Homo sapiens: one gene and its partners. The protein of the gene in region 5 interacts with the protein of the main gene of each other region in a pairwise test. Each region holds a gene or a part of one and is shown on either strand. Other genes may lie near its edges. The genes, in order: SLC41A2, ADGRG7, MARCHF2, LAPTM5, LDLRAD1 and PTTG1IP.

Evidence for each region.
Region 1: the proteins of LDLRAD1 (region 5) and SLC41A2 interact in binary tests that used the Homo sapiens proteins (3 or more experiments, as listed by UniProt).
Region 2: the proteins of LDLRAD1 (region 5) and ADGRG7 interact in binary tests that used the Homo sapiens proteins (3 or more experiments, as listed by UniProt).
Region 3: the proteins of LDLRAD1 (region 5) and MARCHF2 interact in binary tests that used the Homo sapiens proteins (3 or more experiments, as listed by UniProt).
Region 4: the proteins of LDLRAD1 (region 5) and LAPTM5 interact in binary tests that used the Homo sapiens proteins (3 or more experiments, as listed by UniProt).
Region 6: the proteins of LDLRAD1 (region 5) and PTTG1IP interact in binary tests that used the Homo sapiens proteins (3 or more experiments, as listed by UniProt).

The regions. Positions count from the first base shown.
Region 1 is NC_000012.12:104,885,291-104,888,790, forward strand, and holds part of SLC41A2 (solute carrier family 41 member 2), read right to left. Parts: intron 1,150-3,500; coding exon 1,003-1,149; intron 1-1,002. UniProt on the Homo sapiens protein: Acts as a plasma-membrane magnesium transporter. Can also mediate the transport of other divalent metal cations in an order of Ba(2+) > Ni(2+) > Co(2+) > Fe(2+) > Mn(2+).
Region 2 is NC_000003.12:100,616,101-100,619,600, reverse strand, and holds part of ADGRG7 (adhesion G-protein coupled receptor G7 isoform 1 precursor), read right to left. Parts: intron 1-3,500. UniProt on the Homo sapiens protein: Orphan receptor.
Region 3 is NC_000019.10:8,423,305-8,426,804, forward strand, and holds part of MARCHF2 (E3 ubiquitin-protein ligase MARCHF2), read left to right. Parts: intron 1-3,304; coding exon 3,305-3,500. UniProt on the Homo sapiens protein: E3 ubiquitin-protein ligase that may mediate ubiquitination of TFRC and CD86, and promote their subsequent endocytosis and sorting to lysosomes via multivesicular bodies.
Region 4 is NC_000001.11:30,737,275-30,740,774, forward strand, and holds part of LAPTM5 (lysosomal-associated transmembrane protein 5), read right to left. Parts: intron 2,664-3,500; coding exon 2,535-2,663; intron 1,959-2,534; exon of another isoform or gene 1,882-1,958; intron 1,789-1,881; coding exon 1,666-1,788; intron 426-1,665; coding exon 330-425; intron 1-329. UniProt on the Homo sapiens protein: May have a special functional role during embryogenesis and in adult hematopoietic cells.
Region 5 is NC_000001.11:54,015,387-54,019,669, forward strand, and holds the start of LDLRAD1 (low-density lipoprotein receptor class A domain-containing protein 1), read right to left. Parts: upstream 2,801-4,283; 5' UTR 2,791-2,800; coding exon of another isoform or gene 2,727-2,790; coding exon 2,706-2,726; intron 2,042-2,705; coding exon 1,990-2,041; intron 1-1,989.
Region 6 is NC_000021.9:44,860,191-44,863,690, forward strand, and holds part of PTTG1IP (pituitary tumor-transforming gene 1 protein-interacting protein isoform 1 precursor), read right to left. Parts: intron 1,082-3,500; coding exon 973-1,081; intron 1-972. UniProt on the Homo sapiens protein: May facilitate PTTG1 nuclear translocation.

The DNA of each region.
Region 1 (3,500 bases), on a different chromosome or scaffold from region 5:
TAAATAACTTAAGGCAATTTTATATGCTAAGTGAAGCTTCCTTGATGTCTCCAAAAGTCACAGAAAATTATTGCCTTTGGTTGGTTAAAGCCCTTTCTTTATTTCAAGAACATATATCTGAGACCCTTACTTCTTAAAACGAAACATGCTTTAGATTTATTTTAAAGTACACCATAAATCTGTATAGAATCCATGAACATATGTGAGGATTTGTGAATAAATGTTTGCCTCTGGCTTGGCTTATATACTCATGTTTTTTTCTTGTATTACTGTAAGTTTCTGTTTTCCTTAATTTGGCATCTAAAAATAATAAAACCACAATGAACTTTTAGCATGTCATCAACACTCACAAATCATATGTATTTACCATTTCCAGAACACAAATTTGCATTAAAACAACTCATTAGATTCCATAAATACTCTATCACTATTTATCAGGAATTACATATATGGCTCCAACTTTATACAGCATTCAGTCTAATTTTTGTGGTGATTTTTTTTTCCCTTTTGTTAACTGCCATGAAGCTACTTATTGGTGTGGGTTTCTGATGGGGAAAAACATTCCATTGGTAAATTTTAAGTACCACTTATAAGCTTATATTCTGAGATGGTTCTATACAGAGAACACTGCAGGTTGACTCCTAGCTGCTGTACACTTACAGGAAAGGACAGAAATCACAAAATATGATAAGCCTGTGTTCAACTTTTTTACTAGTAGTTATATAAACTTGGGTAACATACATAACTTCTATGATCCTTGCTTTTCTCATCTAAAATTAGAGATGATAATCCTTATTTTACAGAGTTTTAAACTCTACGAGAAAAAAGAAAGTGGGAATCATAACACATAGTAGGTATAAAACAAATGATAGTTATCCTAATCAGTCTCAACAGCAGTTCTAATGCAAATGAAGGCTACCATGGATTCATGGCATTGCTGCAACAATATTTATTTAAAGAGACTTGAGACAACACACAATATTTAGTTTTAAATCAACTTACCAAGACAGGAGTATAAGCCCTGACTTATCCAAGCCAATATGGCAAGAGTTATAAGGTCGCCAAAACTAGCAGCAATGGGTGTAGCAACATTATCAGGATTTATACCAGTCTTCTTTGAACCAACGATAACCCCAACCATTATTATTCCTAGAAGAAAGAATGTTCATTACTTTTTAGGCTATGATTTAAAGAAAATCAATCCCCCAAATACCAAAATGTGTAGGATAGAAAAACAGCATATCAATTCCAGTTAGACTGCTTAGATAAGCTGACTAAAGCAAACAAAACATTTACTCTAACGCTTTGGCAAAATGCCTTTCAACAAACTCCAAGTGGGGATCATAGAAAATTTAAGAAGTTCAGCATTGTATTTAGAGGCCTGAAAGCTACTAAAATTATGGTAAAGCTAAAATTTCAGATTTAGTGACATGTATATCTTAGATATAATGTATTTGTGTGTATTGAATCCAAAGGTTTTAATTTTAACCCTCAAATAAAGTATGAAAACATCAAAAAAAAAGGTGAGTCATATGTATATGTACAACAACTGGGAAGAAGGCCAACAAAACCAGATTTGTTTACATATGGCAGCTAGAAATGCTTATTTCATTTTATTACTTAAAGACGTTGAAGTATTAAGCAGCAGGACATAATTAAATTTTAAAACACTGAAGGCCAGAATACAAGAAACAGTCTTTGTAAAAGATATTCTTTAAACCTGAAGTTTCTGTCTATAAACCTACGAGAGAATAGAAGATGAAAATTTAACTGTGTACTTGTACTTTTACATCCTAATTTTCTTAAATTATACAAATGGGATAAAACTATTAACATTTATATCCACTCTAAATTGTGTAGATTTTGTCACACCAAGATACTCATTAAGAGGATGTAGTAAAGAGAAAACTTTAAATGTGCTAACCACAAATCAATATGAAAGCCTAAATATGGCTATGGAGAAAAACAGTAACAGAATCTCACAGCACTTTTAGAGTTAAAATGACTCTAAATGTTTTTGTTCCAGCATACTCACTTTATAGATAATAAAACTGAGGTCCTGTAGAGTAGGGCTTAAATTCTTGCCTAAAGTCACATAGCTTGTGACTCTAGCCCAGTGTTTTTTACTCTACCTATTAAAGCCAAAATTTTAATAAGCAGAATTTTTGTCTTGCATCAAACAGTGCCTTATATTTTAGTATTCTGGAGGCTTTTTAAATTACTAGACTTACCTTTCCCATAATATCATTGAAAAAGAAAAAAAGCTATAGCAGAAAACTTTTTAAAAAAAATACATTATGCAATAATCAGGCAAGATGTAATCGCTTAGAATCTTTTTCCAAAATCAGCACATTTGAAGATGTATATGGGAAGTTCTCCTACACATAGTACCATCTATATCTTTTCAACTGAAAACAAATATTTTGTATGTATCATAGTCCAGTGGAAAGAGCTAAGAGTTAGGAAACGTGTTTTAGTTCTGATTCAGCTGGTAACAAGTTGATGAGATTGGACAAGTCACCTTACCTAAGTTTTCTCACCTACAAATATGGCTAAGAGTTTCTACTTTACATATACTAAAGTGCTTATAAAGGTCAAGTTATCATAAAATTAGAACACACATTATTCAAAGTCAGAAGCTTTAAACAAATACTTTTTAAAATTCTGAATTTTGGATAGTTTTGAAAAGCTTTCAAATACTTGTTAGACTGAAAAATTTTAAATGACACTTTCTAAATGAAATAAAATCAGAAAGAAAAAAGAAGCAAATGAGCCTAAAAAAATAGCATGCTGATGGCATAATTATTTTTGTACCAACAATTTAATTTTCCAATAGCTTAACTTCACTCTGCTTTGGTCAATGTTAACTCCATTCAACTATAGTAATTCTTTATGAAGACAAGAAACTACCCCGATACAATTAAACTACTAAAACAAAATGCTTGAAAATATTTTGGAAATCGAGTTATAATTTTAATAAGATTCCCTAAATTCCCAGAACCTAGCCAAAAAAGTTAGCTGCATTGTATGATCACCTAACATGACAATAATCCACTTTAAACTTTGCTGGTGATATAAGGGCAAGAAAATGGCAATTATAAAATAAAAAGAACAAAGTCTTTATGATTGTGATTCCACAATAAGCTAATTCTCTAGTGTAAAGTTCATACGAATAAATATAAAGAAAAATAACCCAAATAAAAGTTCTAAAGTAGTTAATTTTTAAAACCTTCTGGCTCTTTAAATTCTATAGCCAACAATATGCTATCTTAAGTATAAGGTTATATTTGTATTGCCACAGAAACAGGGAAGAAATTTTTCTTGAAATCTGAAACAAAAAAATTTCAACAGAGGATGACTTTTGAAACCCAGAATTCCTGGAACACTTGTTACTCAAGTGACAAGCTAGTAAATCCCCTGCATGATGTCCAGAAAGGAGTTTCCCAATTTATTTAACTTACAGAAACAAATGAATGTCTAGGCGATTTTCCTGATCTTTT
Region 2 (3,500 bases), on a different chromosome or scaffold from region 5:
TTTGAAGGGTTTTTTGTGTCTTTATTTCCTTCAGTTCTGCTCTGATCTTAGTTATTTCTCGCCTTCTGCTAGCTTTTGAATGTGTTTGCTCTTGCTTCTCTAGTTCTTTTAATTGTGATGTTAGGGTGTCAATTTTAGATCTTTCCTGCTTTCTCTTGTGGGCATTTAGTGCTATAAATTTCCCTCTACACACTGCTTTGAATGTGTCCCAGAGATTCTGGTGTGTTGTGTCTTTGTTCTTGTTGGTTTCAAAGAACATCTTTATTTCTGCCTTCATTTCATTATTTACCCAGTATTCATTCAGGAGCAGGTTGTTCAGTTTCCATGTAGTTGAGCGGTTTTGAGTGAGTTTCTTAATCCTGAGTTCTAGCTTGATTGCACTGTGGTCTGAGACACAGTTTGTTATGATTTCTGTTCTTTTACATTTGCTGAGGAGTGCTTTACTATGACATGATTGTATATCTAGAAAACCCCATAGTCTCGGCCCAAAATCTCCTTAGCTGACAGGCAACTTCACCAAAGTCTCATGATACAAAATCAATGTGCAAAAATCACAAGCATTCTTATACACCAATAGTAGACAAACAGAGAGCCAAATCATGAGTGAACTCCCATTCACAATTGCTTTAAAAAGAATAAAATACCTAGGAATCCAACTTACAAAGGACGTGAAGGACCTCTTCAAGGAGAACTACAAACCACTACTCAGTGAAATAAAAGAGGATACAAACAAATGGAAGAACATTCCATGCTCATGGGTAGGAAGAATCAATATTGTGAAAATGGCCATACTGCCCAAGGTAATTTATAGATCAATGCCATCACCATCAAGCTACCAATGACTTTCTTCATAGAATTGGAAAAAACTACTTTAAAGTTCATACGGAACCAAAAAAAGAGCCCGCATCGCCAAGTCAATCCTAAGCCAAAAGAACAAAGCTGGAGGCATCACGCTACCTGACTTCAAACTATACTACAAGGCTACAGTAACCAAAACAGCATGGTACTGGTACCAAAACAGAGATATAGAACAATGGAACAGAAAAGAGCCCTCAGAAATGATGCCTCATATCTACAACCATCTGATCTTTGACAAATCTGACAAAAACAAGAAATGGGAAAATGATTCCCTATTTAATAAATGGTGCTGGGAAAACTGGCTAGCCGAATGTAGAAAGCTGAAACTAGATCCCTTGCTTATACCTTATACAAAAATTAATTCAAGATGGATTAAATACTTAAATGTTAGACCTAAAACCATAAAAACCCTAGAAGAAAACCTAGGCAATACCATTCAGGACATAGGCATGGGCAAGGACTTCATGTCGAAAACACCAAAAGCAATGGCAGCAAAAGCCAAAATTGACAAATGGGATCTAATTAAACTAAAGAGCTTCTGCACAGCAAAAGAAACTACCATCAGAGTGAACAGGCAACCTACAGAATGGGAGAAAATTTTTGCAATCTACTCATCTGACAAAGGGCTAAAATCCAGAATCTACAATGAACTCAAACAAATTTACAAGAAAAAAACAAACAACCCCATCAAAAAGCGAGCGAAGGATATGAACAGACACTTCTCGACAGAAGACATTTATGCAGCCAATAGACACATGAAAAAATGCTCATCATCACTGGTCATCAGAGAAATGCAAATCAAAACCACAATGAGATACCATTCTCACACCAGTTACAATGGCGATCATGAAAAAGTCAGGAAACAACAGGTGCTGGAGAGGATGTGGAGAAATAGGAACACTTTTACACTGTTGGTGGAACTGTAAACTAGTTCAACCATTGTGGAAGTCAGTGTGGCGATTCCTCAGGGATCTAGAACTAGAAATACCATTTGACCCAGCCATCCCATTACTGGGTATATACCCAAAGGATTATAAATCATACTGCTATAAAGACACATGCACACATATGTTTATTGCGGCACTATTCACAATAGCAAAGACTTGGAACCAACCCAAATGTCCAACAATGATAGACATTGTGTATGTGGCACATATACACCATGGAATACTATGCAGCCATAAAAAATGATGAGTTCATGTCCTTTGTAGGGACATGGATGAAGCTGGAAACCATCATACTCAGCAAACTATCGCAAGGACAAAAAACCAAGCACCGCATGTTCTCACTCATAGGTGGGAATTGAACAATGAGAACCCATGGACACAGGAAGGGGAACATCACACACCAGGGCCTGTTGTGGGGTGGGGGGAGGGGAAGGGATAGCATTAGGAGATATACCTAATGTTAAGTGACGAGTTAATGGGTGCAGCACACCAACATGGCACATGTATGCATATGTAACTAATCTGCATGTTGTGCACATGTACCCTAAAACTTAAAGTACAATAAAAAAGAAAAAGAAAAAAAGAAAATATTATTTTCCAATTTTTATTTATTTTGGGGGACTCTTTTTTCTATAAACATCTTTTAAATTTTCTTTATCTGATGTTCTGCAATTTTACCATGATGTGGTTTGTTTTTGCTTTGCCTACTTGAAAAGTCATCCTTCAATCAAGAAAACTTTTTAGTTATTACTTCTTTAAGAGTTGCTTCTCCCATATTTTCTATTCTCTTCTGAAATGTCTCATAGACCCTGTTGGACTTTAGCCTTCTATACATCAAATTTTTTAATCTCATTATTGTTAACATCTCTTTATATTACTGTGTTGAATTACAGTTTCCTAGCTTTCTTTTCCATTCCCTAGTTTTCTCTGTAATTATTAGGGTGTGGAGGGGGGACTTTATTTGTTTGTTTTGTAGAGACAGGATCTCCCTCTGTCACCCAGGTTGGAGTGCAGAGGTGTAATCATAGCTCACTGTAGCCTCCATCTCCTGGGCTCAAGGGATCCTTCTGCCACAGTCTCCCCAGTAGCTGAGACTACAGGCAGGCGCCACTACGCCTGGTTATTTTTGAAATAATATTTTGTGTTTTGCAGAGATGAGGTCTTGCTACGTTGCCAAGGCTGCTCTCAAACTCTTGGCTTCAAGTGACACTCCAGCCTGAGCTCCCAAATGCTGGGAATACAGGCATGAATCACCATGCTCAGCACCTTAATGATTTCTAACCTCCTTTTAAATCACTCATTAATTTTTTTATCATTACTATATTTTCTATTTTAAAAGTATTATTTGGTTCTTTTTCAAATTCTCCTATTCTTTTTAAAATACTGTATTTTTCTTTTTTTATTTTTCTCCTGTATTTTAAAGGCTTAATCTTGTTAAACATATTTTATATTCTCTTTCAGATGGTTTTGTTATATCCAATTCTGGGAGGGTTAATCCTTTTGATGACATCTGATGTCTCTCCAGCATCATGGTTCGCATGTAATTTTGTATTGTAAACTCATCTTTGTCTTATTTATTATTCTTCCATGAGACTTTTATGGGTTTTGTTTGTGGAAATATTTCCACAGGAAAATTTCATGATTACTTCTTTTACGATCCTGGGGCACCATCAGTAGTAGTCTTGAACTAGTATT
Region 3 (3,500 bases), on a different chromosome or scaffold from region 5:
CCACCTCGGCCTCCCAAAGTGTTGGGATTACAGGCATGAACCACTGTGCCTGGCCTCTTCTCTGAATTTGCTCTCCCAAACTTTTTCACAGTTTCCCAGAACAAGCTCCAAACTGACATGATTCTTCCTCAAGATTCTCGTCACTTCTGTTTCCCTGGGTTGGTTTCCGGACAAAGGGTTCCTTTTTTGTTAACTTTGTTTGTGTGTGTACTTGGGGGAGGGTGGGATCGGGGTATGGGTTCAGAAAGGAGGCAGGCAGGCATGCCCTTTTGCCATTGCAGGAGGAAATAGCAGTCCAGGGACAGGACTGTTGAGAAAGCAGCCATGAGCAGCCTGTTGGGCTCTTTTTAAAGCCGCCCAACTCCACCCCGCAGCATGAGAATCTGAGAAAAGGATAGAAAACAGTCATTTCCAGGCAGGCGTGGTCGCTCATGCCTGTAGTCCCAGCACTTTGGAAGTCCAAGGCTGAAGGATCGCTTGAGCCCAGAAGCTCAAGACCAGCCTGGTCAACATAGTGAGACCCCCCTCTCTAGAAAAAGTTAAAAAATATTAGCTGTGTGGCGTGGTGCCACCTGTAGTCCCAGCTACTCGGGAGACTGAGGCAGGAGGATCGCTCGAGCTAGGGAGTCCGAGGCTGCAGTGAGCTGTGATTGCACCACTGCACTCCAGCCTGGGTGACTCAAAAAAAAAAAAAAAAAAGAAAGAAAAAAAAATACAGTCTCTCTGAGAGGAAATTGGCGTTGTCTGGAAAATAGCTCTTCTTTGTGTGACCTCACAGTCTGCCTTCTGGCCAGAAATGTTTGGGAAACAGTGACTCATGGCTGTTTGGCCTCTGGGCCACGCCCCCTGCCTCCTGAGCTGCCCTGGGAAGGACCCGGCATCCCCAGAGACTGGGCCAGGGCTGGAGACTTTTCCGAGGCAGCTTTCTGCAGATGCTTTTTATTTCTATTTCCCCCTCACAAGGGCAGAGGAGCAGGTGAGCACTTCTCTCTGGATGCACAGGTTTCTCAGGTAGCACGGGCTTCAGGTGTGATTAGATCCAGGGGCCCGCAAAGATGTCCTTAAGAATCTACCTTTCCCAGGCCTTGCGCAGTGGCTCACGCCTGTAATCCCAGCACTTTGGGAGGCCGAGGCGGGTGGATCACGAGGTCAGGAGATCGAGACCATCCTGGCTAACACGGTGAAACCCCGTCTCTACAAAAAATACAAAAAATTAGCCGGGCGTGGTGGCCGGCGCCTGTAGTCCTAGCTACTCTGGAGGCTGAGGCAGGAGAATGGCATGAACCTGGGAGGTCGAGCTTGCAGTGAGCCGAGATCGCGCCACTGCACTCCAGCCTGGGTGACAGAGCAACACTGTCTCAAAAAAAAGAAAAAAAAAAATCTACCTTTCCCTGTCTCTTGGCTCTGCTCTCCTCTGTGCTGGCATCATTCACAGGCTCCACACAGACTAGGCAGCTGCAGGAGCTCCAGGCTTCTGTCAGCCTTGTGGCCGACAGTTCTGGAGTTTACGGGGAAACAAAGAATTTTAGGAATAGATTATCGGTGACTCTGATGGTATCATACAAGCCTGAGTTGGTTGCATGAGCAGGGGTGCGTGCTGTTCTATTTTCTTTTTCTTTTTTTCAAATGGTCTCACTCTGTTGTCCAAGCTGGAGTATAGTGGTACAATTATGGGTCATTGGAGCTTTGAACTCCTGGGCACATGTGATCCTCCTGCCTCAGCCTCCCAAGTAGCTGGGACCACAACATGTACCACCACGCCAAGATAAGTCTTTAAAAAAAATTTTGGGACCGGGCGTGGTGGCTCACGCCTGTAATCCCAGCACTTTGGGAGGCTGAGGCGGGCAGATCACGAGGTCAGGAGATTGAGACCATCCTGGCTAACACGGTGAAACCCCGTCTCTACTAAAATACAGAAAAAAAAAAAATTAGCTGGGCATGGTGGCATGTGCCTGTAGTCTCAGCTACTCGGGAGGCTGAGGCTACTCGGGAGGCTGAGGCAGGATAATCGCTTGAACCTGGGAGGTGGAGGTTGCAGTGAGCTGATATCACACCACTGCACTCCAGCCTGATGACAGAGCGAGACTCCATCTCAAAAAAAAAAAAAGAAAATTTTTTTTTTATAGAGATGAGATCTCACTAGGTTGCCCACACTGGCCTTGAACTCCTCGGCTCAAGTGATCCTCCCGCTTCAGCCTTCCAAAGTGCTAGAATTACAAGCATGAGCTACTGCTCCCGGCCTGGTGTTCTGACTGGTCCAGTATGAGGCCTGAGGTCATGAGGAGTGTTGTCTGCTCTGCCCTAGTCCTTGAGGATTTTTTTTTTTTTTTGAGACGGAGCCTCACTCTGTCACCCAGGCTGGAGTGCAGTGGTGTAATCTCGGCTCACTGTAACCTCTGCCTTCCAGGCTGAAGTGATACTCCTGCCTCAGCCTCCCCAGTAGCTGGGATTACAGGCACCTACCACCACGCCCAGCTAATTTTTGTATTTTTAGTAGAGACGGGGTTTCACCATGTTGGCCAGGCTGGTCTTGAAATCCTGACCTCATGATCCTCCTGCCTTGGCCTCCCAAAGTACTGGGATTACAGGAATGAGCCACCTCACCCAGCTGGTCTTTGAGGATTAAGAGTCGAGGATTGGGGGCCGGGTGCGGTGGCTCACGCCTGTAATCCCAGCACTTTGGGAGCCTGAGGCAGGCGGATCACAATATCAGGAGATCGAGACCATCCTGGCTAACACGGTGAAACCCCGTCTCTACTAAAAATACAAAAACACAATTAGCCGGGCGTGGTGGCAGGTGCCTGTAGTTCCAGCTACTCGGGAGGCTGAGGTGGGAGAATGGCGTGAACCCGGGAGGCGGAGCTTGCAGTGAGCCGAGATCGCACCACTGCACTCCAGCCTGGGTGACAGAGCGAGACTCTGTCTCAAAAAAAAAAAAAAAAAAAAAAAGAGTTGAGGGTGGGGAAGTTGTGCAGGACAATCAGGGTGGGTATTTTAGGGAAATTTGGAGAGGACATGGGGGCGGGTATAACAGATGCCCATCTTGGGTCTGAGAGGGTGCTGCAGGGTCCCTGGGAAGGGAACACATCACTCCACCTGTGGGAGTCTGGGAAGGCTTCGCAAGGTTACCTTCCCTGCATCTCCTTCCCAAAGGGAAGGACATTTAGAGCTGGGCATTGAAGGATGAGTAGGAGTTCACTAAGTGGCAGCATGGGGTAAGGGTGAGCTTGTGATCCAGTGGGTAGTGAAGCAGGTATAGACAGAAAGCCCAATCATTGCTCATGGGTCCTATCTCTGTGTCCAGTGATGGTCCTTTCTGCCGGATCTGCCATGAGGGAGCGAACGGGGAGTGCTTGCTGTCCCCGTGTGGCTGCACCGGCACGCTGGGTGCCGTGCATAAGAGCTGTCTGGAGAAGTGGCTTTCCTCATCTAACACCAGCTACTGCGAGCTGTGCCACACGGAGTTTGCAGTGGAGAAACGGCCTCGACCCCTCACAGAG
Region 4 (3,500 bases), about 23 Mb from region 5:
AGTGACTTGCTGAAGACCAACCACGCAGCTAGTGACAGTGGGGCTTGGATTCAAACGCAGGCCAGTCCAAATCTAATTCCAGACAGCTGGAATTAGACATCTGAACGCAGGTGGCCTTTACGGATTCACATGCCCTAAATGGGCTGTCTCGGAGGATCCCAAGTAAAGTCAGAGGAGCTGGCATGGGAAAGCAAGAGAAAGGAGCTAAAAGCAGGAGAGGAGGCATGGAGGACACATGTCCCTGCCTTCTAACAGCTTGGCATGGGCAGGCCTGGGCCCAGCACAGCCTCACCACCCCTCCCAGAGCCGCAGGGCAGGGATCCACTCACCTTGAAGATAAGGACAGTGATGAAGGCGATGGAAAAGATGATCATCATCTTGATGAACTGGTTATGAGGCATATCCTCCTGGCTGGGGAGGTAATTCTGCAACAGATTTGGGGGCCACATCAATGTCTCTGGACATAAGGAATTCCAACAGCACCCACACATCCGGGAATAATGATCCCACCCTCCACACACACACGAGCACAGCGTGGCACAGCCGTCACCTTGGTCGACCGCCACAGCAGCCTTAGGAAGCAGGTGCTACCTTCAGCCCCATCCCACTGACGGGCAAACCAAGAAAAGCCAAGTGGCTACTATCTCCAGATCTGCTTCCCAGGCTGGCGCACCGGCCCATCCCCAGCTGGCAGGTGTCAGCTGCCCATGGGCCACACCTATGCTCTTCTCTACAAGATCATTTTGGCTGACAGGGACCACCTAATCCACTAATACCTGGGAGGTTACATTCCCTCCCCTAGGGGCAGCTTGAAACCAATGACTGATGCAGGGGAACTCGCCCTAGGTGAGACTGCCTCTGTGGTCATTTGCAAATATTACCACACATTCTTTGAGACGCCTCCCTTCTAAAGGTGGTGTTTATTTCCTCTCCCCTTGAGTGTGGGCTGGACTTAGCAACGCACTTCTAACTAACAGAATGTGGCAGAAGTGATAGAAGTCTTAAAAGACACTGCCTTTCCTCCTTGCTTATCTCTTACATCACTCCCGCAGGGGAAGCCAGCAGCCATGTCAGGAGAGCACTCAAGCAGCACTACTACAAGTCCACAGGATGAGGAATTAGGCAAAGAGCCCACGCCCTGTGAGTGAGCCACCAGGAGTTCATCCTTCAGATCTAATCAAGCCCTCAGTTGTCCACAGCCCCAGGTACCATCTCTGGTGCAGCCCCACCAGAGTCCCTGAGTCAGAAGAACCCAGCTAAGCCACTCCCAAGCTCCTGATCCTCAGAAGCTGTGTGAAATAATAAATGTTTATTGCTTTAAGCCATGATGCTTAGAGATAATTCATTAGACAACAATAAAAACTGATATTATGTCTGTGTTGCAATTCACATGCCAAAGCCCTCTCTGGGATCATGCAGGGCTGCTCCTACAGCCACATCTTTGCTTCTTTGCTTGGCTTCCTCCTTTTCTCGAACCTGCCTTCCTCACTCCTGACAAGTTTCTTCCTGAGAGGGCTCCCTCAATAAATCACCAGCACAAGAATCTTCCTCCCAAGCTCCAACTCCAGGGAACCTGGCCTAAACCACAGACACACAGAGACGTGAAGTAACCTGTTCAAGGCCACACAGCCAGCAAATGGGCATGGTTCCCTGCCCCAGACTCACCATGTGGTTCATGGACTTGAAGTTGAGATAGGTGGGCACTTCCATGTAGGAGCTGCAGAGGGTCAGGATGCTCAGGCAGAAGTCCAGCAGCTGCAGCGTCATCAGGGGGAACTTGGAGGAGCTCTGGGGAGGACAAATACAAGGAGGAGGAATGAGGAGCAGCAATTAAAGTCCCAGTTACTGAGCGGCACATAGTAGGCCCTCACTTGAGAGACCGTCTCAGCTACAGACATCAGTGACTCTCGTCCCCTGTGCACAGAGAGACATGAACACACAGATGTTCATACCAAGAGCTGGTGGCAGACCCAAGACTAGAACCAAGGTCTCCAGACTCCCGGGCCAGGGCCCTTCCATGATGTAGCCCCCCGGTCTCTTCAAGGACAACAGTTGGGGAGAGTGAGAAAAGCAGGTTTGGGAGACTGTGTCCTTGACTGGCAGCAGCCCTCAAGCCACCCCACAGTGGGCGCTCACTGGCATGAATCATCCTTCTCTTCCTTTCTTCAACTTGGTTCCAAAGAAGAAATAATACTGGGGGCTGGGGGCTAAAAAGCGCACATGTCCTTTCCTCAGGTGTCAATTCACTCCCAGCAGCACTGACTGAGTGCTGACCATGGGCTGCACCCCCAATGTGTGTGTTCCTCATGTAACCCTCATAAGGCAGGCTGATGAGATGTGATTGCAGGTACATTCCACAGAGGAAGAAACTTGGGGCAATGTGGAGGGACTCAGAGACTGGGTCAAGACACCAGCCAGGAAGAGGGCTCCTACCCTCCCCAGCCTGAGCACAGGGCCCGTGTCTGGTCCCCTCCCATCTCCCATGCCAGACCTGGGCTCTGCTGTCCGGTGAGAGGTGGGGGCTGGGTACTCACAGCACGGCTCCGGGAGGCCAACTTGAGGTAGGCGGGCAGCTCAATGTAGGAGCCCAGCAGGGTGAGCAGGCACAGGAGATAGTCCATGATTTGCAGGGACAGGAAGGGCAGCAGGTACTTCTCCCGGTTCTGAAAGGTAGGCCCAGCACCGTCAAGTGTCCCCTGCATGCAGCCAACACTCCGCCACCCAGCCTGATATCCTCATGCATCCCCTTCCCACCCTCTCCCAAACCTTCCCTGCCCTCCTCAGTTGAGGTCACCTCCCTCTGAGTGACACTCTGGGGACAGGGAGTGGATAAGACCCAGGCCCTGAATGAGAGGAGTCTTGGTGTCCCAGGAGACGTAAGGGAACCATCCCCATCTATCAGGGCTCAAAGAGCAGGATTTGACTCAATTTGCTCACAAGAACCCAGCAAGGAAGGGCTTTGTGCACTTTTTACAGAGGAGAGGGGACCAGAGAGGACTTGCTGGAGGTGGGGACACCAGGGCTAGATCGGGGAAGGAGACTAGGAGTGAACAGGAGGGAGGGGCGGGGCACTGGAGGCAGAAAGACCAACATGAGTGAAGGCCCGGAGGCAGCAGAGAGCCCCTCCCCCCCACCCCCCACTCCCCACCACGCCCCGCATACAATTGGACCTTCCTCCACCAGCCACTCCCAGGGGTCCAAAGTCACAGTAAGAGGCCCTGCCAGGAAGAGGCTGAAGTCCCTCTTCTTCAATTGAAAGCAAGTGACCACCATGACCAGTATTCATTCATATGCTCTCACAGCTGGGGACAAAATCACTGCAACAGTGGTTTCCTGGTGTCTCATGTGGTCGTCTAAAATCACTCAGGAGGCAACCAGAACAATCTTGACTGATCTCAGAGTCTTCAGGGACCACCTGCTCCATTTCTCCATTTCTCTAGCTGAACCCTTTGAGTTTCTGCACAAGCACCCACAGCCACCCTGCACAAGGCAAACGGCCT
Region 5 (4,283 bases):
CTCCCCTGCTTACAAAATAATAAAAGAAGGCTTTACTGAGGACCTCCTGGGTGCCCTGCTGTGCAGCTTGCCCTGGTCCTTGCCCTCTGCAGCTTGTTATTGCACTTAGAAGGCAAGGCATGGACATGCCTGAAGGGGTGTGGGAGCTACTGACGTGCCCAGGCCACAGGTACCTCAGAGAAAGGGGCAGGAGCAGGTGTGATTCATCCCTGTGACCCCAGGGCCCAGCCCAGAGCCAGGCACGTGGTGGGGGCTTTTGTTTTTTTTGTTTTTTTTGTTTTTTTTTTGAGGCGGAGTCTTGCTCTATTGCCCAGGCTGAAGTGCAGTTGCATGATCTCAACTCACTGCAACCTCTGCCTTCTGGGTTCAAGCGATTCTCCTGCCTCAGCCTCCCGAGTAGCTGGGATGACAGGCGCCCGCCACCATGCCTGGCTAATTTTTGTATTTTTAGTAGAGACGGGTTTCACCATGTTGGCCAGGCTGGTCTTGAACTCCTGACCTCAGGTGATCCGCCCACCTTGGCCTCCCGAAGTGCTGGGATTACAGGTGTGAGCCACCACACCGGCCTGGGGCTTTGTGAACACTCTGTGAATATGCCGACCTGGGGGTCCAGGAGGCAAGAGAAGGCCCCCAGTATGGGTCAGTCCAGGTTATTTCCAATCCATTCACATTTCTGATGCAGTGTCCTCAGAAGCAGAATGGGATTTCCACAGGCAGGTAAGGGGAGGGTGCAAAGAGAGGGCATTCCAGGCAGAGGGCGTGGCAGGAGTAAAGGCCCAGTGGTTGCAGGTGGGGGAGCACAAATGGCCTGGGGTGGTGGGACTCCAAGATGGATGTGTATTGGGAGGGGAGACAATAGCAGGAGAGGCAGCATAAATCTAAAACCTGTCATCCCTACAGCCCTAGTTGGTGGCTCCTTGGCCATCAGCAAACAGGGTAAACTCAGGTAACCAGGGAGGCAGCGTGACTCTGGGCAGGGAGAGGTGTCCTGATCAGCCAAGCAGCTCCTCAAATATTTGTGCAGCACAGACCATGCACAAGGTGGGGCCATGGGAGAACCCGCAGAACCAAGGCTCCTGCCCAGGTGAAGCTGTTGCACTTCAAAGCCAGAAAGCCCTTAGGTGCCAGTCCTCTCCCTGTACCGATGAGGAAAAGGAGGTGATTCTTTCCACAACCCCGCCCATCATGAGTCAGGACTTAGAAATAAACAAACACCAGCTCGGAGCAACAAAAGCCCTGGGGCTTTGTAACCAGAGAGACCTCAGTTCACATTTGAACCCTGGCCCTCCAACCTCCCTGCTGTGTGACCTTGGCCTGGTTACTCAACCTCTCTTAGTTTCAGCTGTCTCATCTGTTATTGCCCCATAACAGGGCCCCTGTCTCAGAGCTGTCCTGAGGATTAAAGAGATCATGCAGTGCCAGGCACCTAACTGGGGATGGATTCTTTATAGCTGGTATTTTAATCTACCTCTCTGAGTGTGTTTCGTCATTGATCAAATGTGGGCCAAGCCAGGGCATATGCAAAGCTCAGTACATGTGTGTTTCTTCCTTCTTCTATTTTCAGAAGGGTAAAGAGGACTGTCCTGGTCACACCATGGGCCAGTGGCACATAGTAGGGCTAAATAAATGTGTCACTTTATCCATCAGAGTTAAAGAGAATTGCCCAGGTCACCCACTGAGTCAAGAATTTGACGCTGGTGCTCTTTTCTCTGTGTTACAGGTGGGCACTGTATGCAGTTTGGTGCCTGTGAGGTAGGCAGCACACAGTAGGTGCTTAATGAATGCATGTGCATGGAGAGAATGAATAACCCTATTAAGCAAGTGACTGTCAGCATGGCTGGCCAGGAAGCTGGGAGCAGACAACGTTAACATGGAGGCAGAGGTCTGAGGGACAGTGGGAGCCTTGAACCCTCCTCATGTCTCTATCGCCAACTGCCAGCTTCAAGGGAGCCCCACAGGGCACTGGCCCCAGGCCCTCCAGTTCTTTACCTTCCCCTCCAGGGTGGGCTTTGGATTCAGCAGCAGTGTAGCCATTCTCTCCCTGCCCAAGAGAACAGAGTGAGGGGTGGGCTTAGGTGAGGTGAGCTCCAGCCTCAGGGAGGCAGACAACAGGGTTTTCAGAGGGGTCACTGAGAGAGTCTTAGGTAGAACCACGGGTCCGTCACACCCCAGCATCTCACGCCCCAGATGCATCATGCCCGCTTCATATGTCCACACCTTTGCCTGCACTGTGCCCTCTGCCTGGAAAGCCTTTTTCTCTGCTGTCCACCTGATAAATATTCATCCTTCAAACCGGCTTGGGCAGCGACTCCTGGGTGAGGCTTTCCCTGATACCCTCCTCCCCAGTAAAACTGGCCGCTCTTCCCTCCTGTCCACCTGGCTCCTCTGTTTCCATACCAGCACTTGCCACCTGGACTGTATTGCTGGGTCATTGGTAGGGTCCCCTACACCCTGGGAGTGAGCCCCGGGGCAGGACGGGGGCTGATTTTCCTCCGTGTCTCCCATGTATGCCCACTCTCTACTGCCCACTCCTCATCCCAAGGTTTGCTCTCCCAAGATCAGGAGCCTGGTCAGGGCGGCTCTTACCTGGGGACAGCTCTTACTTGGAGACAACTCTTACCTGGGGACAGCTCTCACCTGGGGACAGCTCTCACTTGGGGACAGCTCTTACTTGGAGACAACTCTCACCTGGGGACAGCTCTCACCTGGGGGAAGACCTTGTTCATGTCTTCGGTTTCCTGCTGCCCGACTGGGGCTGTGTGCAGAGAGCTCAGCACGGGTTCCCTGCATTGTCACCAAGGCCAACCTGGAGGAGGGACAAGCAGGAGGCCTTGCCCGGGCCACACCCTCCCTGTGGGCAGGCCCCTGTCAGCTGCCTTCCAAGCAGAGGCAAAGGCAGGAGGGCCCCTCTCCGGCCAGGCTATTCCCTCATCTGCCATCTGACAGCAACATTGCGAGGCTGGAATCCTCATCCCTATTCCACAGATGAAGAGCCAGAGGTTCAGAGAGGGAGAAACTGCCCCAAGTCTCACAGTGCATGGGAGGAGTGAAACCCAGAAACTTTTCAGAAAGTGCATTTTCCTCCACATCAGAGATGGAACCGGAGGAGCTCAGGTTCCAGGGGTATGAAGATGCAGGCAGAAACTCCCAGAATTGACGTTTCGGTGGCTAGAAAGTAGGGGTCATTTTCTCATTGATGTTCTTCTGTTCAACTACATAGGTGACCTAGATTGAAAGAATATGCATTTTCCACTAAAATTATAAAGCAAATATAATTTTAAATTGTTTCATTTAGAAACGTGGCAATGTGAATTTTTACTGCCCCTGAGGTGGTGCTGAGGTAGGGAAGAGGCGGGGGGCTGGTTGCTTGCGTGAACAACCCCTTCTATGTCCCCAGTGAGTGGGTTTCCCTAGCAGCCTGTCCCACTGCTGAGTAAACCAAGGCCCTGGAATCTTGAGGGACAGGTCCAAGGACCCGGACCAAGGGAGGAGAGGTGTCTACCTCCAGAAATGAGCTCAGGAGTTCTTGCACCTGCCTCTGATGCCCATAGATTTTCCAACCTGCAATCAGCCTTTTCTTTTGCATTGGGAAATAAAATGATGAATCCACGTGGGTGCAAGTAGGAGGCACAGACACAGGGGCAGCCCTTGGGAGGCAGCAAGTAACATTGTGAAGAGCTGAGCCCTAGGCCGGGAGAACAGGACTCTCATTAGGGCCCTACCACTGGCTCTGACGGGTGACTCACTCCCCTTCCCTGCGCCTCAGTTCCTTCATCCAGAAAATAAAGATATAAGCTAGATGAAGGGGGTGTTTTAGTTTAAGGTTCCCCAGAATCAGACTCTAAGACAAGATTTGAGGGCAAGTAGAGTTAATTGGGAGTGATCCCAGGAAATGCTGGTCGGGGGGTGAGGGAAATGAGACATGGAAGAGAAGGATCCGATAACAGTCGTGTTATGAAGCAGGTTTCCGCTGTGGGCAAGTGGAATTTAGCCCTGCTGGGGCACTCGGGGAAGCTAGGGGAGAAGATGCCCCTCAGAGTTATCCCACTCAAGGTGAGGGGAACTGGGGTAATAATCTGCCAGCTCCTGCCAGTCTTGGTTGAGAATGGCCAGAGGAGGCCAGGCATGGTGGCTCATGCCTGTAATCCCAGCACTTTGGGAGGCCGAGGCAGGTGGATCACCTGAGATCAGGAGTTCAAGACCAGCCTGGCCAACATAGTGAAACCCCGTCTTTACTAAAAATACAAAAAATTAGCCGGGCATGGTGGCAGGCGCCTGTCATC
Region 6 (3,500 bases), on a different chromosome or scaffold from region 5:
ACCCCGTCTCTACTAAAAAATACAAGAAATTAGCCGGACGTGGTGGCGGGCACCTGTAGTCCCAGCTACTCAGGAGGCTGAGGCAGGAGAATGGCGTGAACCTGGGAGGCGGAGCTTGCAGTGAGCCAAGATAGTGCCATTGCACTCCAGCCCGTCTCAAAAATAAATAAATAAATAAATAAAGGCAAACTAGAAAACAACTTGAATCTCACAAGAGCTGATTTCCTTAATTTAAAAACGCCTCCAAAATCAAATATACAAAGATACGCACACAAAAAAAGAGGGCTGTCTACGCAAGCAGGGATTCTTAAGCTGGGAAAACTGGAGATTCTAGGGGAATTCACAGGTGAGTTTCAGGGGTGACACATGAACAAAACATACTGAGCAGAGAAGTCAAACACGTTGCCTTCAAACTCACCCTTTTCCCCACACCTTCTGTAACGTGGTGAGATAGAGCTCAGTGCTGGGGCTGACCACCTTGAAGGAGGTCCTCCAGGTTCCCCAGGGCTGCTTTCCCGGTCAGCAGATCACCCCTGGCTTCCCAACCTCTCCCTGGGAGTCACAGAGCTACTGGCAGCACATTTTCTAGCAACTTCTGCTAACTGAGCACATAATACTATTTTCTTTTTTTTTTGAGACAGTCTCGCTCTGTCGCCAGGCTGGAGTGCAGTGGCACGATCTCGGCTCACTGCAAACTCCGCCTCCCGGGTTCAAGCAATTCTCCTGTCTCAGCCTCCCAAGTAGCTGGGATTACAAGTGCATGCCACCACGCCCACCTAATTTTTGTATTTTTAATAGAGACGGGGCTTCACCATGTTAGCCAGGATGGTCTCAATCTCCTGACCTCTTGATCCACCCGCCTCCGCCTCCCAAAGTGCTGGGATTACAGACGTGAGCCACCGCGCCCGGCCCATACTACTATTTTCAAAGAAGCATCGATTTTGCAAGCAGCAAATGAAAACAATGACTTACCCCAACAAACTCCCCAGCGTGCAGAGCTCAATTTACAAAGGGAAGCCGGTGGCAAGACGCTTGTAACTGGGTAGTCCAGACAAGCCTTGTTAGTGTTGCACCAAAGACACTGAAAGAGACCAACATTAAGCAAGCATTAGAAACAACAGAAAAACCAAAGAACTGTCCAGGCTCTGCCCACAGCCCGCCAGTGCTGCCATCGCTCTGTGGATGGCTGTAAAGGCTCAACCTCCCCCTCAACGCCTCATCTCTGCCTTCACCCTCAGCGCCCTTCGGTCCACACCCAGCACAGCGGCCAGCAGCCCTGTCAGCTCTCCACGGACTCATCCAAGGCCCGCGTCACTCAGGCCTCTTCCACAACTCACCCTGCTGAGGCCACGGGGCCTCTGTGTTGGCAGCCTCCTGAGTGCTGCCAACCCCACCTCATGCTCTCAGCCTCAGCTCAGCCTGCCGGTTCTGCCTGGAGCACTCTCCCCACATCTGTGTGGCTCCCCACTGACTGGATGGGCCCTGCCTCGATCAACAGACTGGACACAACCAGCCGCCTCCACCCCCTCCTCCTCACCTCCTGTGAGGTTTGCTTCCGTAGACCTCTCCTCCCCACACGCCGGGCACCTGTGCACTTCACTGGCTGAAGTCTCCCAAGAACACAGGACACAGCCTGGCCCATCACAGGCACTCACTGAGTTTGTGTTGAATGGACTTGGGTGAGCATGGTCACCATCTGTAGCAAGGACCATGCTTCCTACCTCTGACCTTCACAACTGCACTAAGTCGCACAGCTTGAAAGATGATGCAACTACGGCTCAGCCCGCCCTAAACTGACAGCTGGAGAGAACCTCATAGACGCTCTTGTCTGAGCCCCTTGAACGTCAGGTGTGAGGCCGCAGTGGTGTGGAGACAACACCATCACACCCGTGTGTGTGTGTGTAAGAGCCCAGAGCTGGGCCCAGCCCATGCCACAGCAGTACACAACGAGGCCCGAAAGCGGTCTGTGAGCCAGGCACTGAGCGTGACAGGGGACAGCCTAGCACGCAGGCAGATGGCACAGGAAGGGGTGAAAGAACTGCTGTTCGGGTCAGGCACGGTGGCTCACGCCTGTAATCCCAGCACTTTGGGAGGCCAGGAGGGCGGATCACCTGAGGTCAGAAGTTCGGGATCAGCCTGACCAACATGGAGAAACCCCATCTTTGTTAAAAATACAAAATAAGCCGGGCGTGGTGGCACATGCCTGTAATCCCAGCTACTCCAGAGGCTGAGGCAGGAGAATCGCTTGAGCCCAGGAGGCGCAGGTTGCGGTGAGCCGAGATCGCACCATTGCACTCCAGCCTGGGCAACAAGAGTGAAACTCCGTCTCAAAAGGAAAAAAAAAAGAACTGCCGTTCGGCAGCACCTCATGCGCCAGCCCAAGTCCAGACCCAAGTCCAGACTGCCTGTTACTCCCAATCTCCACATTAACAGTGTTACTGACTTTTTAATAGGATAGAAAGTCATGGCGTTTTTGGCCCAGGTTAGGGCAAAAGTCTATTACAAAAAAATATTAATTACAATGTCCCCTGGGCCTTCTTTCCCAGGGCTACTTATACAGTGACCACCTTAGTGTCGTGTTTAAGTGGTTTCCAGCATAATGTAACAATTAACAGTTAAACCCTGTTTATTCTGGTCATTTGGGAGTATCTTCCATTTCAGGGGTTTTGCTTGCAATTAACGATTTTTGGCTAATCCTCCCTTTTCAAGTGGCTCAAGTTGTAAATGTCTGATTTTCCATTTTTCCATGACAGTGGTACCATGAGCCACAGGACTGCACTGGGAGGATACGGTGTTCTCTGGTGGTTGTGCTGCTTTTCTGATCGATGAAGTAATATGCACATAGCAAGCAGCTCAGGCAGCAGCACAGACACACAGCCCGCCACGGCCTCGGCAACACAGAGACACACAGCCCGCCACGGCCTCAGCAGCACAGAGACACAGCCCACCACGGCCTCAGCAGCAGAGACACAGCCCACCACGGCCTCAGCAGCAGAGACACAGCCCACCACGGCCTCAGCAGCAGAGACACAGCCCACCACGGCCTCAGCAGCAGAGACACAGCCCGCCACGGCCTCGGCAACACAGAGACACACAGCCCGCCACGGCCTCAGGAGCGTGGACACAGCCCACCATAGCCACTGCTCCAACACGCAGGTCCTCTTGAGACCTCCCAGGCACTGACACCTCCTTCCAGAAACCTCCTGTGTGCCCAAGAGCACACCCACACACGCCTGGAGCTACTGTAGGGCAAGCGGCCCTCTTCACCGCCCTGTCTGGGTTCAGAACTGGAGTCAGGCCTTCAGCCCTTCTGGACTGGCCCCATCCACAATGACCTGGGCAAGTCCCTCAGCCGCCTCATCCACGAGATGGCTGTCATCACCACACCCTGCCCAGGGTGGTGAGGGTTACACAGGGTACTATGGCAAAAACGCACTCTAGGCTACAAAGCCACATACAATAGTGAGCTATGTTTAAAGCTGAAATGACTTCCAATAGAA